Linked DNA regions of Homo sapiens. The protein of the gene in region 1 interacts with the protein of each later gene in a pairwise test. Each region holds a gene or a part of one and is shown on either strand. Other genes may lie near its edges. The genes, in order: TMEM143, CSGALNACT2 and ABHD16A.

What was found.
Region 2: the proteins of TMEM143 (region 1) and CSGALNACT2 interact in binary tests that used the Homo sapiens proteins (3 or more experiments, as listed by UniProt).
Region 3: the proteins of TMEM143 (region 1) and ABHD16A interact in binary tests that used the Homo sapiens proteins (3 or more experiments, as listed by UniProt).

Annotation. Positions count from the first base shown.
Region 1 is NC_000019.10:48,353,796-48,357,445, forward strand, and holds part of TMEM143 (transmembrane protein 143), read right to left. Parts: intron 1-3,650.
Region 2 is NC_000010.11:43,158,844-43,162,493, forward strand, and holds part of CSGALNACT2 (chondroitin sulfate N-acetylgalactosaminyltransferase 2), read left to right. Parts: coding exon 1-88; intron 89-480; coding exon of another isoform or gene 481-505; exon of another isoform or gene 506-521; intron 522-1,650; coding exon 1,651-1,752; intron 1,753-3,356; exon of another isoform or gene 3,357-3,517; intron 3,518-3,650. UniProt on the Homo sapiens protein: Transfers 1,4-N-acetylgalactosamine (GalNAc) from UDP-GalNAc to the non-reducing end of glucuronic acid (GlcUA). Required for addition of the first GalNAc to the core tetrasaccharide linker and for elongation of chondroitin chains.
Region 3 is NC_000006.12:31,686,384-31,689,968, reverse strand, and holds the end of ABHD16A (phosphatidylserine lipase ABHD16A), read left to right. Parts: intron 1-2; exon of another isoform or gene 3-264; coding exon 265-388; intron 389-849; coding exon 850-954; intron 955-1,182; coding exon 1,183-1,246; intron 1,247-1,663; coding exon 1,664-1,720; intron 1,721-1,865; coding exon 1,866-1,928; intron 1,929-2,068; coding exon 2,069-2,145; intron 2,146-2,228; coding exon 2,229-2,327; intron 2,328-2,424; coding exon 2,425-2,471; intron 2,472-2,673; coding exon 2,674-2,757; 3' UTR 2,758-3,014; downstream 3,015-3,585. UniProt on the Homo sapiens protein: Phosphatidylserine (PS) lipase that mediates the hydrolysis of phosphatidylserine to generate lysophosphatidylserine (LPS). LPS constitutes a class of signaling lipids that regulates immunological and neurological processes.

The DNA.
Region 1 (3,650 bases):
AGGACACCGAGAAGGCAGCCACAGGAAGATGGAGACAGGGGTTGGAGTGACTCATCTACAAGCCAAGGAGCACCAAGGGTTGCTGGCAGCTACAGGAAGCCAGGAGAGACACCATAGATGCTTCCCTCTCAGGGCCTCCACAAGGAAACATCTTTTAATACATTTCACTTCTTTTTTTTTTGAGACATAGTCTCACTCTGTTGCCCAGACTGGAGTGCAGTGGTGCGATCTTGGCTCACTGCAGCCTCCGCCTCCCGGGTTCAAGTAATTATCCTGCCTCAGCCTCCGGAGTAGCTGGGATCACAGGCATGTGCCACCACACCCAGCTAATTTTTGTATTTTTAGTAGAGTCGGGGTTTCACCATGTTGGCCAGATTGGTCTCGAAATCCTGACCTCATGTGATCCACCTGCCTCGGCCTCCCAAAGTGCTGGGATTATAGGCGTGAGCCACCGCGCCCAGACTTTTTCTTTTTTTTTTTTTTTTTTGAGACATAGTCTTGCTCTGTCACCCAGGCTGGAGTGCAGTGGTGCGATCTCAGCTCACTGCAGCCTCCGCCTCCTGGGTGCAAGTGATTCTCCTACCTCAGCCTCCCGAGTAGCTGGGACTATAGGCACCCGCCACCACACCCAGCTAATTTTTGTATTTTCAGTAAAGATGGGGTTTCACCATGTTGGCCAAGCTGGTCTCGAACTCCTGACCTTAAGTGATCCGCCCACCTCGGCCTCTCAAAGTGCTGGAATAACAAGCGTGAGTCACTGTGCCCGGCCAAATTTCACTTCTGTACCTTGTTGCTGGTCTCTTCCTCAGTAGAACAGAGCCTGTGAGGTACATCTCTCATGCTGTCCACTGTCTCCCAGAGCCTCAAGCCATTCCAGAGACACAGTAGGTGCTCAATAAATATTTACTGAGCGAACTCAATGAATGAATGAATCAGCGAAAAAAGATCAGAGAGAGGTCACCCGCCAAGGTCACCCGCACCACTAGTGAACAACCAAGCTATTGTTTGAACCGAGGCTATGCTGCTTCTTTCCCTGCCCAGGCCACATCTTCAAAGGACTTAAGTCATCAGCAAATGGTCACCCAGCGGGCCTCACCCGCCTCTGCCACTTCTACCCTGCCCCTGCCTCTGTTTAAAATCTCCTGCCTGGGAGATATATGCTTATTCACTTATGTTCTTTCTACATTTCTATATATTTATACATTTCTATAATAAAATAGGCTTTTTTTAACTTTTTTTTTTTAAGAATCTTGCTCTGTCACCCAGGCTGGAGTGCAGTGGCGTGATCTTGGCTCACTGCAACCTCCACCTCCCGGGTTCAAGTGATTCTCATGGTTCAAGTGATTCTCATGCCTCAGCTTCCTGAGTAGCTGGGACTACGGGCACCCCCCACCACAACCGACTGATATTTATATATTTAGTACAGACAGTTTCACCGTTTGCCAGACTGGTCTCGAACTCCTGGGCTCAAGTGATCCGCCTACCTCGGCCTCCCAAAGTGCTCAGATCACAGACAAGACATACCAAGCCCAGCCTTAACTTTTAAAAAAATAGAAAAAGAAAAAAACAACCGTGGCTCCAGAGGCCATAGGTGCCCTGTGGAAGAGCTTGGAGGCAGGCAGACGGGGGCTTGATCTCGACTCCACCAATTATGAACTGTGTGATCCTGGGCACAACCCGGGCCCTCTGAGACATTCAGTTTCTCCATGTATGAATGGGCTGATGGCGGCTGTCTCTCCGCACTGCAGGAAGGAGTCAATAAGCCAGACACAGCAAGCGCTCAGCAACAAGGGGCTGTGATGGCCACTGTTGCTGGGGTTGTTATTATTCAAAGCAAAGTGCGGAGCTGCAGAAGGCAGTGGTGGGATGTGGCGAGGGGTGAATGCAGCAGGCCTGGGTTGTCCAAACCCCGCACATTCCAAAGAAAGGACCGGCCCTGGACCAGCTTCTGGGAGGGAACCTCTAAGCCCTTGGAATGTCCTGACTGATAAGAGTGTCTTGGTTTACCTGGGGCCTGGGGCCACACTGGATGCTGTGTGTTAATGTTGTCATCTATGGTCAGGGCCTGGAGCCACTGAGCATCAGTTTGACCTCGGAGGGGCTGGAGTCTCAGGTCAGCCACCATGCATATGTGACTGACCCCCAGTAAAAACCCTGGCCACCCAGGCTTACAGGAGCATCCCTGGTTGGCAGTACTGCTTGCGTGTTGTCACACATCTTGCTGGGAGAATTAAGTGCCGTCCATGACTCCACCGGGAGAGGACAGCTGGACGCTCACGCCTGGTCTGTCTTGGATTCTGCCCCATGTGCCTTTTTCCTTTTTTTTTCTTTTTTTTTTTTGGGATGGAGTCTCACTCTGCTGCCCAGGCTGGAGTGCAGTGGCACAATCTCAGCTCACTGCAACCTCCGCCTCCTGGGTTCAAGTGATTCTCCTTCCTCAGCCTCCTGAGTAGCTGGGATTACAGCTACTGGGATTACAGCGCCACTATGCCCAGCTAATTTTTGTACTTTTAGTAGAGACAGGGTTTCACCATGTTGGCCGGGATGGTCTCGATCTCCTGACCTCGTGATCTGCCAGCCTTGGCCTCCCAAAGTGCTGGGATTACAGGCGTGAGTCACCACGCCCGGCCCTCCTTTTTTTTTTTTTTTTTGAGACAGAATTTTGCTCTGTCACCCAGGCTGGATAGTGCAGTGGCAAAATCTCAGCTCACTGCAACCTCCGCCTCCTGGGTTCAAGCGATCTCCTGCCTCAGCCTCCCAAGTAGCTGGGATTATAGACATGCGCTACCAGGCCCAGGTAATTTTTTTTTTTTTTTTTTGAGATGGAGTTTCACTCTTATTGCCCAGGCTGCAGTGCAATGGTGCGATCTTGGCTCACTGCAACCTCCTCCTCCCAGGTTCAAGCAATTCTCCTGCCTCAGCCTCCCGAGTAGCTGGGATTACAGGCATGCACCATCACACCCAGCTAATTTTGTATTTTTAGTAGAGACGGGGTTTCTCCATGTTGAGGCTGGTCTCGAACTCCTGACCTCAGGTGATCCGCCCGCCTCGGCCTCCCAAAGTGCTGGGATTACAGGCGTGAGCCACAGCACCTGGCCTTTTTTTTTTTTTTTTTTTTTTTTTTTTTGAGATGGAGTCTCACTCTGTCACCCAGGCTGGAGTGCAGTGGCGCGATCTCGGTTCACTGCAAGCTCCGCCACCTGGGTTCAAGCGATTCTCCTGCCTCAGCCTCCTGAGTAGCTGGGATGACAGGCACATGCCACCACACCTGGCTAATTTTTGTATTTTTAGTAGAGACGGGGATTCATCATGTTGGTCAGGCTGGTAATTTCTGTATTTGCAGTAGAGACAGGGTTTCGTCATGCTGGCAAGGCTGGTCTCGAACTCCTGACTTCAGCTGATCCACCTGCTTTGGCCACCCAAAGTGCTAGGATTACAGGCGTGAGTCACCGCGCCCGGCAGTACTACCATCTATTAATAGATCCTCCCACAGCAGTTTCTCAGCCCAGACCTCTCCCTTCACCTCCAGATCCACATATTCAAGTCTATCTTTCTTTTTTTTTTTTTTTTTTTTTCTGAGACGGAGTCTCACTCTATCGCCCAGCTGGAGTGCGGTGGCGCAATCTTGGCTCACTGCAAGCTCCGCCTCC
Region 2 (3,650 bases), on another chromosome or scaffold:
TGATTGACATCACTAGATCAATTATTAATATCATTGTGCCACTTGCTGAAAGAACTGAAGCATTTGTACAATTTATGCAGAACTTCAGGTAACTGTCAGGGCTTAATGATTAAGCTACATTCTCCTAAAAAAAATCACGTTTTACTCAGATTTCCTTAATTTATCTTCACCGATTATAATTACTTAGAATAATTTTACAGGCTTTAGGGGAACTTTATTTTTTTATATTCTCTCTTTTTTTAAAGCATGTGTAGTATATTGTGTTATAGACAATTTGAACTATGAAATAAATTAAGAGTGACACCTATTAGAAACTAAATTTGATGGCCTTGATAATTGTTTTGAATTCATTTTAAGACAAGTTGAATTTTTAAAAAATCAACTTTACTAAGGAATAATTTACATGCAGTAAAATCCACATATTTTAAGGATATAGGTATCATGACTCTTTTTTTATTTTTATTTTTTTTTTTGAGACAGGGTCTCACTCTATCACCCAGGCTAGAATGCAGTGGAGTGAGCACAGTTCACTGCAGCCTCAACCTCCTGGGCTCAAGTGATCCTCCTGCCTCAACCTCCCAAGTAGCTGGGACCACAGGTGCATGCCATCTTTTTTATTCTTTGTAGAGAGAAGGTCTTGCCATGTTGTCCAGGCTGGAATTTAATGTCTTTTGACAAACGTATACACTCACGAACCACCACCCCAATTAAGATACAGAATACTTGTGTCTCACAAGAAAATCCCCTTGAGAATGATTTGAGTTTTTTAATTGAAATACATTTAGACATACAAACATTAAACTAAAAATTGGAGAAAGTTATTTCAGCTTGCAAAGCAGAGAATTTGTAAAGTTTTTTTATGTTATCAAATTTGTATATTTTAAAATGCTGAAGTGTTAAATAATTATCTACACATTATGAAAACTATTTGTGGAAAATGCTTTTTGATTTAACAGTTTCCATGTTTCTAATACTTTAATATTTTTAATGTTTTAGATACTTTGATATACTGGTTTAATGCTTTGTGATCCTAGTCTTTATTCTCATATTGAAATTGTTGGATTTAAAAGGTTAATTAAAACTGGTCTGCAGCTGAATGTCTGGCAGTCATACTTCCAAGTGAGATTTACTGTTCCAAATAGCTCACTTGAGATCCGATTTCCTAAAGCATTTTTTTATTGCCTTTCTTGGAATTACTTTCAAAGGCCACATTATTATTTACAGTAAGTAATCTCAGTCATGGCAAATATTTATTCCTTAATGATAGTTACAATTTTTGGAATTAGCCAGTCTGAAGACAAAATAACTCTTAATCCAAAAGGTCAGTATTTATTTATGTGGTTCTGAACCAGTTGAGTTTATTTCCTTGAATAGCTTGTGATTTGCTTCTGAAAGCAATCCAAAAGCAAAAGTTCAAAAAATGTTTTGAAATAATGGCAGCAATGTCAGACTGCTTCCATGGCCCTCCAAGGGGTGCACTCATTCAGGCATAGACCTTGTGCCTTCCATAATTCATCAGTATTGCCACATTTATGTTTACTACTGTGTCAGTAATGCCTCATTTTCTTGTTAAAGCTTCATGTGGTTGCTTTCTTAATGAATAGTGCCTCATGTTTTCTTGAATAAACTTTTATTTTTCACTTCTGTTAGGGATGTTTGTATTCATCAAGACAAGAAGATTCATCTCACAGTGGTGTATTTTGGTAAAGAAGGACTGTCTAAAGTCAAGTCTATCCTAGAATCTGTCACCAGGTTGGTGAACCACATCTGCAGTGAAGGCCTTGATATATAACATTGCTAAAAGAGAATTTCAGATATGTAATGAGTTAATAATTTTTAGTAACTATTATTTAAAAATTGGCTGAGCATGTGGGCGGTGGTGGTGATGATAAGTTCCTCATTTCACATGCAACCCTACATGACTCAACTTCCCTTCACTGCTTAGCAAGCAGCCTGGCATGATGCTTTCTCTGTGGCCCACTCACCTTCTGTGTATTTGCTGCTGCTTTCCTTTTTTTAAAATCTAATTCCTTCACTTTGACATAATCATCTTCTGAATTTGTCTCTTTTTTGTCACCTTTCTTTCCTTCCATTTCCTCAGGCTCCTTCTTCTCCCCCTGCTAACAATGTTGAGGTCTCCCATATCCTTAAGAAACTCCCACTCAACTCTGAAGTGCCCAGCCACTACTGTTATGTTTCTGTCCTTTCACAGCTCAACATCACGAGACAGTAGTTCATAGCTAAGCAAGTCATATAGTACCTGGCACATAGTAGATGCTCAGAGGTTTGAATGGATGAATTAGTAATCCCTTAGTACTTAATTATTAATTCTTTAGCCTCTCAGCCTTTTTCTTTCTAAATCATGGGCCCAAAGATAACGACTTAACTGCCAAATTCTTTTCTGTTATTCTTTTTCATTGCTTTTTTACCTTTGACAACCTAACCAGTATTTCTGTCTTAAAATGTTCTTCTTGTGTTTGTAAAATGTAACTATTTTGTAAATGTAAGTATGATGTAATGTAAACTATTAGGTTGATTATCATCTCTAACCACACCAGCTCTATATCCTTTACTTGCTTCTTTACCTTTCTGCCAGTTGTGGCCATTTGCCAAGAGCCCAGATTTGATCAGCCATTCTTCTCAAATCATTCAACTCACATTCATTGAGTCCTGCCTACTGTGTTCCAGGTACACTGCTTGGGAGTTTGACTGGGGTAGTTGGAAGAAGAGTGGGCGTAGATGAGTGAATCTGAGTCCCTGACCTGCAGGGATTCTCAGAGCCTTGATGTATATAGACACAATTCACTGTCTTCCCCTTCCCTACACCAGCTCCTCCTCCTGATGGCCCTCTTTCAGTTCAGAGTAAAACCATTTTCACCATCTGGGCATGACTTCTGAGAGCCACAGTCTTTTACTTATTCTTTGCCTCCAGTTACCTCTAATTAGTTAGTTCCTACTTAATTCACAGGACCTCTTCTCTATCTCTTCCTTGCTACTGCCACCACCCTAACCCTGGTTCCCCCTCCCTCCATTTCTTCCCTTCCTGTCCCTCCTTAGTGTTTTTAGATCACCTACTAAGTGCCACAAGCTCACACTGGTAATACTGAAGTATTGTCAAGACACTTCTGTGGCAAATGGTGTAAACCTACCTTGAGCTTGCTTGAGGAAAATAGGAGCAGTATTGAAGAATCTCGGATACCTCCCAGAAATAAAGGGATTGTTACAACCAAATTTGGGGAAGAAAATCAAAACAACTCTTGTTTCTCAGGGATTGGAACCAGAGACTTGAATACCATCAAAATTCTCGTCTCCTTGTCTGTTTTTCTCTGCATGTTGACTTCATTCTCCTGTTGCAGATTGGCTTCTTCCACATGGTGAGGGATATGACTGTTGGCGGCTCTGGGCTCACATCTTCTCAGCTTTGCCATCAGAGAGGAAAGAGCTTTCTCCCAGCTCCAGTTGAGAAAATCCCAGGGAAGGACATTTTGCCCACTCTTGAGCCAATCACTATGGCCAGGTTGGGTGGGGGTATTGGGACTGGCCCAGCTTAAGCCTGGTCTCCACCCCTAGGAAATTACTGTGGTTGGGGTGGGCAGAGAGTGAGGGGTATTCTGTGATCAGTGCCTCCACTTGATGCTGAGTATGTGGGG
Region 3 (3,585 bases), on another chromosome or scaffold:
ACCTGAGGGCTGGGGTCTAGGAGGTTGTGAAGGCAGCATTGGGAGCCATGCCCCCATCCCCACAGTGCGGGGCTAGCAGGAGAGGAGGAGGTAGATCTCATTGTACACATCCGTCTTCTGGAGAGAACAACCTCTCCTACCATCCCTTCCTTCTACACCTTCTCTGCCTGTCATAGGTGGCTGCAGGAGGGGTCCACGTTGGGAGGGACAGGTGAGCTGGCCTTTGGTGCTGACACACTCCTGACTTTGCCCTTTCTCCTGCAGGGGGTGCCATTCCCGCAGAATGAGGCTAATGCCATGGATGTGGTGGTCCAGTTTGCCATCCACCGCCTAGGCTTCCAGCCCCAGGACATCATCATCTACGCCTGGTCCATCGGCGGCTTCACTGGTACCAGCCTCCCTCCCATCCCCCACTGTAGACACATTCATGACCACCCAGCCCCACCCGGGAGAGGTGGGGAAATGGGGTGGGGTGGAGGCTCAAGGAAGAAGAGAGAGGAAGTAGAATCTCTGAGTGGGCCTGGAAGAAGCTATCCTATTTGCATACACTTCACCTTTCCTTCCCCTCTTGTGCCCAGTCATTAAAAGGAAAAGCAGACCCAGGTCCTGGGTGGGGAGATCAGGGAAAGTGAATGTTTCCTGCCCATTATCTTCAGTGCACTATCTCCAGTGTTCTATCCCCATCCTCTCCAGATAGTTCCCTAACCAAGTGAAGTAGGTTAAGAAAAAAACAAGGGATAACATAGGGGGAATGGGGTTGGCCTATAGGGTCAGTGGGATGAGAGCATGGGTGGTGGGGAGAAAGGAGCCTTTCTCAGTTCTTACTCTTCTTCCCTGCCCTGGTACCAGCCACGTGGGCAGCCATGTCCTACCCAGATGTTAGTGCCATGATCCTGGATGCCTCCTTTGATGACCTGGTGCCCTTGGCCTTGAAGGTCATGCCAGACAGCTGGAGTGAGTGCAGCTCCCAGGCCTGCCCTTCCTGGGAAGGGGTGGGCTGGAACTGGGAACTGTTCTGAGATGGCTCCCTTTTCTTGGGTGGGGAGTAAGTCGCCCCATTGTTGGAAGCAGGAGGACTCCTTTGTCTGGGGGCCTCAGTTTTCTTTCTCCGTGAATAGTGAGGACCTTTATGTTGGGCAAGGGCTTTGTCTCTGCCATCCCTTCACCTTTATCCCACTCTAGGGGGCCTGGTGACCAGGACCGTGAGGCAGCATCTCAATCTAAACAACGCGGAGCAGCTGTGCAGGTGAGGGCCGGCCAGCGTCCGGCATTGAACACCTGCCCCCCATACAGCTCTGCTGGGCGCTCAAACCCTGAAACTAGTACTAAAGTGCAAGTTGGTAAAAGGCCACTGGCTCACATCCTGAGTGACCCTGCCACCACCTCAACTGGCCTAACCCCTCCCAGGTCCCCTGGGACTCTGGACCACCTCAGGATCTGGCAACCAAAGGGTTAAGGCCTGGCACGGCAGGGGTCTCCCAGCAGGGCCAGACTGAACCATGCCCCTTAAATAATCCCCTCTCACCCCTGAGTGAAGGGCTAGGTCAAGGGCTGTGCTATAGCAAGGGGAGGGTAAGAATGCTACCAGTGCAGGGATAGGGGTGGGCCAGTTGTCACCCGTCTCCCTCTGAGCTCTCCCTTCCCACTGCTCTGTTCTCTGAAGATACCAGGGTCCTGTACTGCTGATCCGGAGAACCAAGGATGAGATCATCACCACCACGTGAGTGCGTGGGAATCTCGGCCCTCAGGAACCCCAGAGATGGCCAGGAACTTGTCCCTTCTACCTCTGCCCACCAGAAACCTGGGTATCTAGACCCTTCCTCCTAACCTCCAGCCCCTCCAGGGTACATTCTTCTCACCCCCAGGGTTCCTGAGGACATCATGTCCAACCGAGGCAATGACCTCCTGCTGAAGCTCCTGCAGCATCGGTGAGAGCCAGGGTGTGTGCGCGCTGGGGGCAGTGTACACACACAGATACTGATACCAGCACAGGGAAGGAGGGAGGAAGGTTCAGGGATGGTGAATGAAAAAAAATCAGCCCTGACCTGTCCTGGCACTTCCTCCGTAGGTATCCCCGGGTGATGGCAGAGGAGGGTCTTCGAGTGGTGAGGCAGTGGTTGGAGGCCTCCTCACAGCTGGAGGAAGGTGAGAAGGGATCCAGTGAGGCTTGGGGCGGGGGCCCAGCAAGGTCAGGTTGCTGACTGGCTGTCATCTCTCTCCCTGACCAGCCTCAATTTATAGCCGATGGGAGGTGGAAGAGGACTGGTGTCTGTCTGTCCTCCGCTCCTACCAGGCAGAACACGGGCCCGACTTCCCCTGGAGCGTGGGTAAGGAGCTCCTGGGGCAGGAGAGAGGGTGGGAAGGGCCTAGGAAGGGGATGAATACCCAGATGTGTGGCCTATTTTGAGCGCCTCCTCTCTGCAGGGGAGGACATGAGTGCAGATGGACGGCGGCAGCTGGCTTTGTTTCTGGTGAGCTAAGGAGTGGGAAGTGGGAAGGGTTCTTGAATGGCCAGGGCTCACATAGGGGGACTGGGGATACCCTATAAGCATTGGAAGTGGCAGCTTTTGTAGAGTGGGTGGTGGATGCGGAAGTGGAGGGTGGGGAGGGAGTCCAGTGGCTGCCCCTCCCAACAGTGCTCTGTACCCCACCTGTCCCACCTCCTTTCCTCAGGCTCGGAAGCATCTGCACAACTTTGAGGCCACTCACTGCACCCCACTCCCAGCCCAGAACTTCCAGATGCCCTGGCACCTCTAGGGACCAACTGGGACTCATTATGGAAGAATGGGGTGAGAGGAGACATGAGGAAAGACCCTCTTATTTGTGATTCTCTGTGTTCATGTTGCTGTTTATAGTTTGTGGAAAGTGGGGGACCATCCCCCTTCTCACCACTGTTCCTCTTGCACGTTTCCCCTCATTCATGTGGCTGTACTTAACCTTCTCCAACATACATCCTGCATTACATGAATGGATTATTCCTAATAATTAATAAAAAGGTATTTTTTCTACTATCAGGCTAATTGTATAACTTCTCAAGTGTCCAGGGAGCCAGGGGCAGGTAGTGGGGAGAGCAGAGGCCCCAAAGAGCTGGGCTTTGGGAAACCCTAACTCTAGACAATCTAGCTAATCTAACCCTTCCCATCTCTGTGTCCCCCTAGGCCTTCAGCCCCTAACCTGAGCTTTCCTCAGGCAGCAGGTCCCCAAACCTCCCCGGTCCCTGATGTGCCTACTGTTATCACAACTGTGCAGCCTCCCTGGCCCCTCCCGCCTCCTTCTTCAGTTCTTCCTGCATACAACCACCCCAGGAGCCCATGGTTGCCCCCTCCTGCTTACGGCTCATGAGCTTTCTAGGATCCGATTTCACCTACCCAGTGCTTCTGCTGGTTTCCAGGTTCAACCTGCATGGTGTTACTAGCAGTACCCCCAATTTTCATTGCTCACCTCTTGTTATCTTGGTGAAGAGTGAGGAAGGGCCTGCTCCCCACGTCTTATGCAGCAAACCCTGCACACCCACCTTGCCATGTCATCAAGTCTCTGTCCTCACAGCCTTTTTGCAGTTCAACAAACACAGGCCCTGCCAGGGAC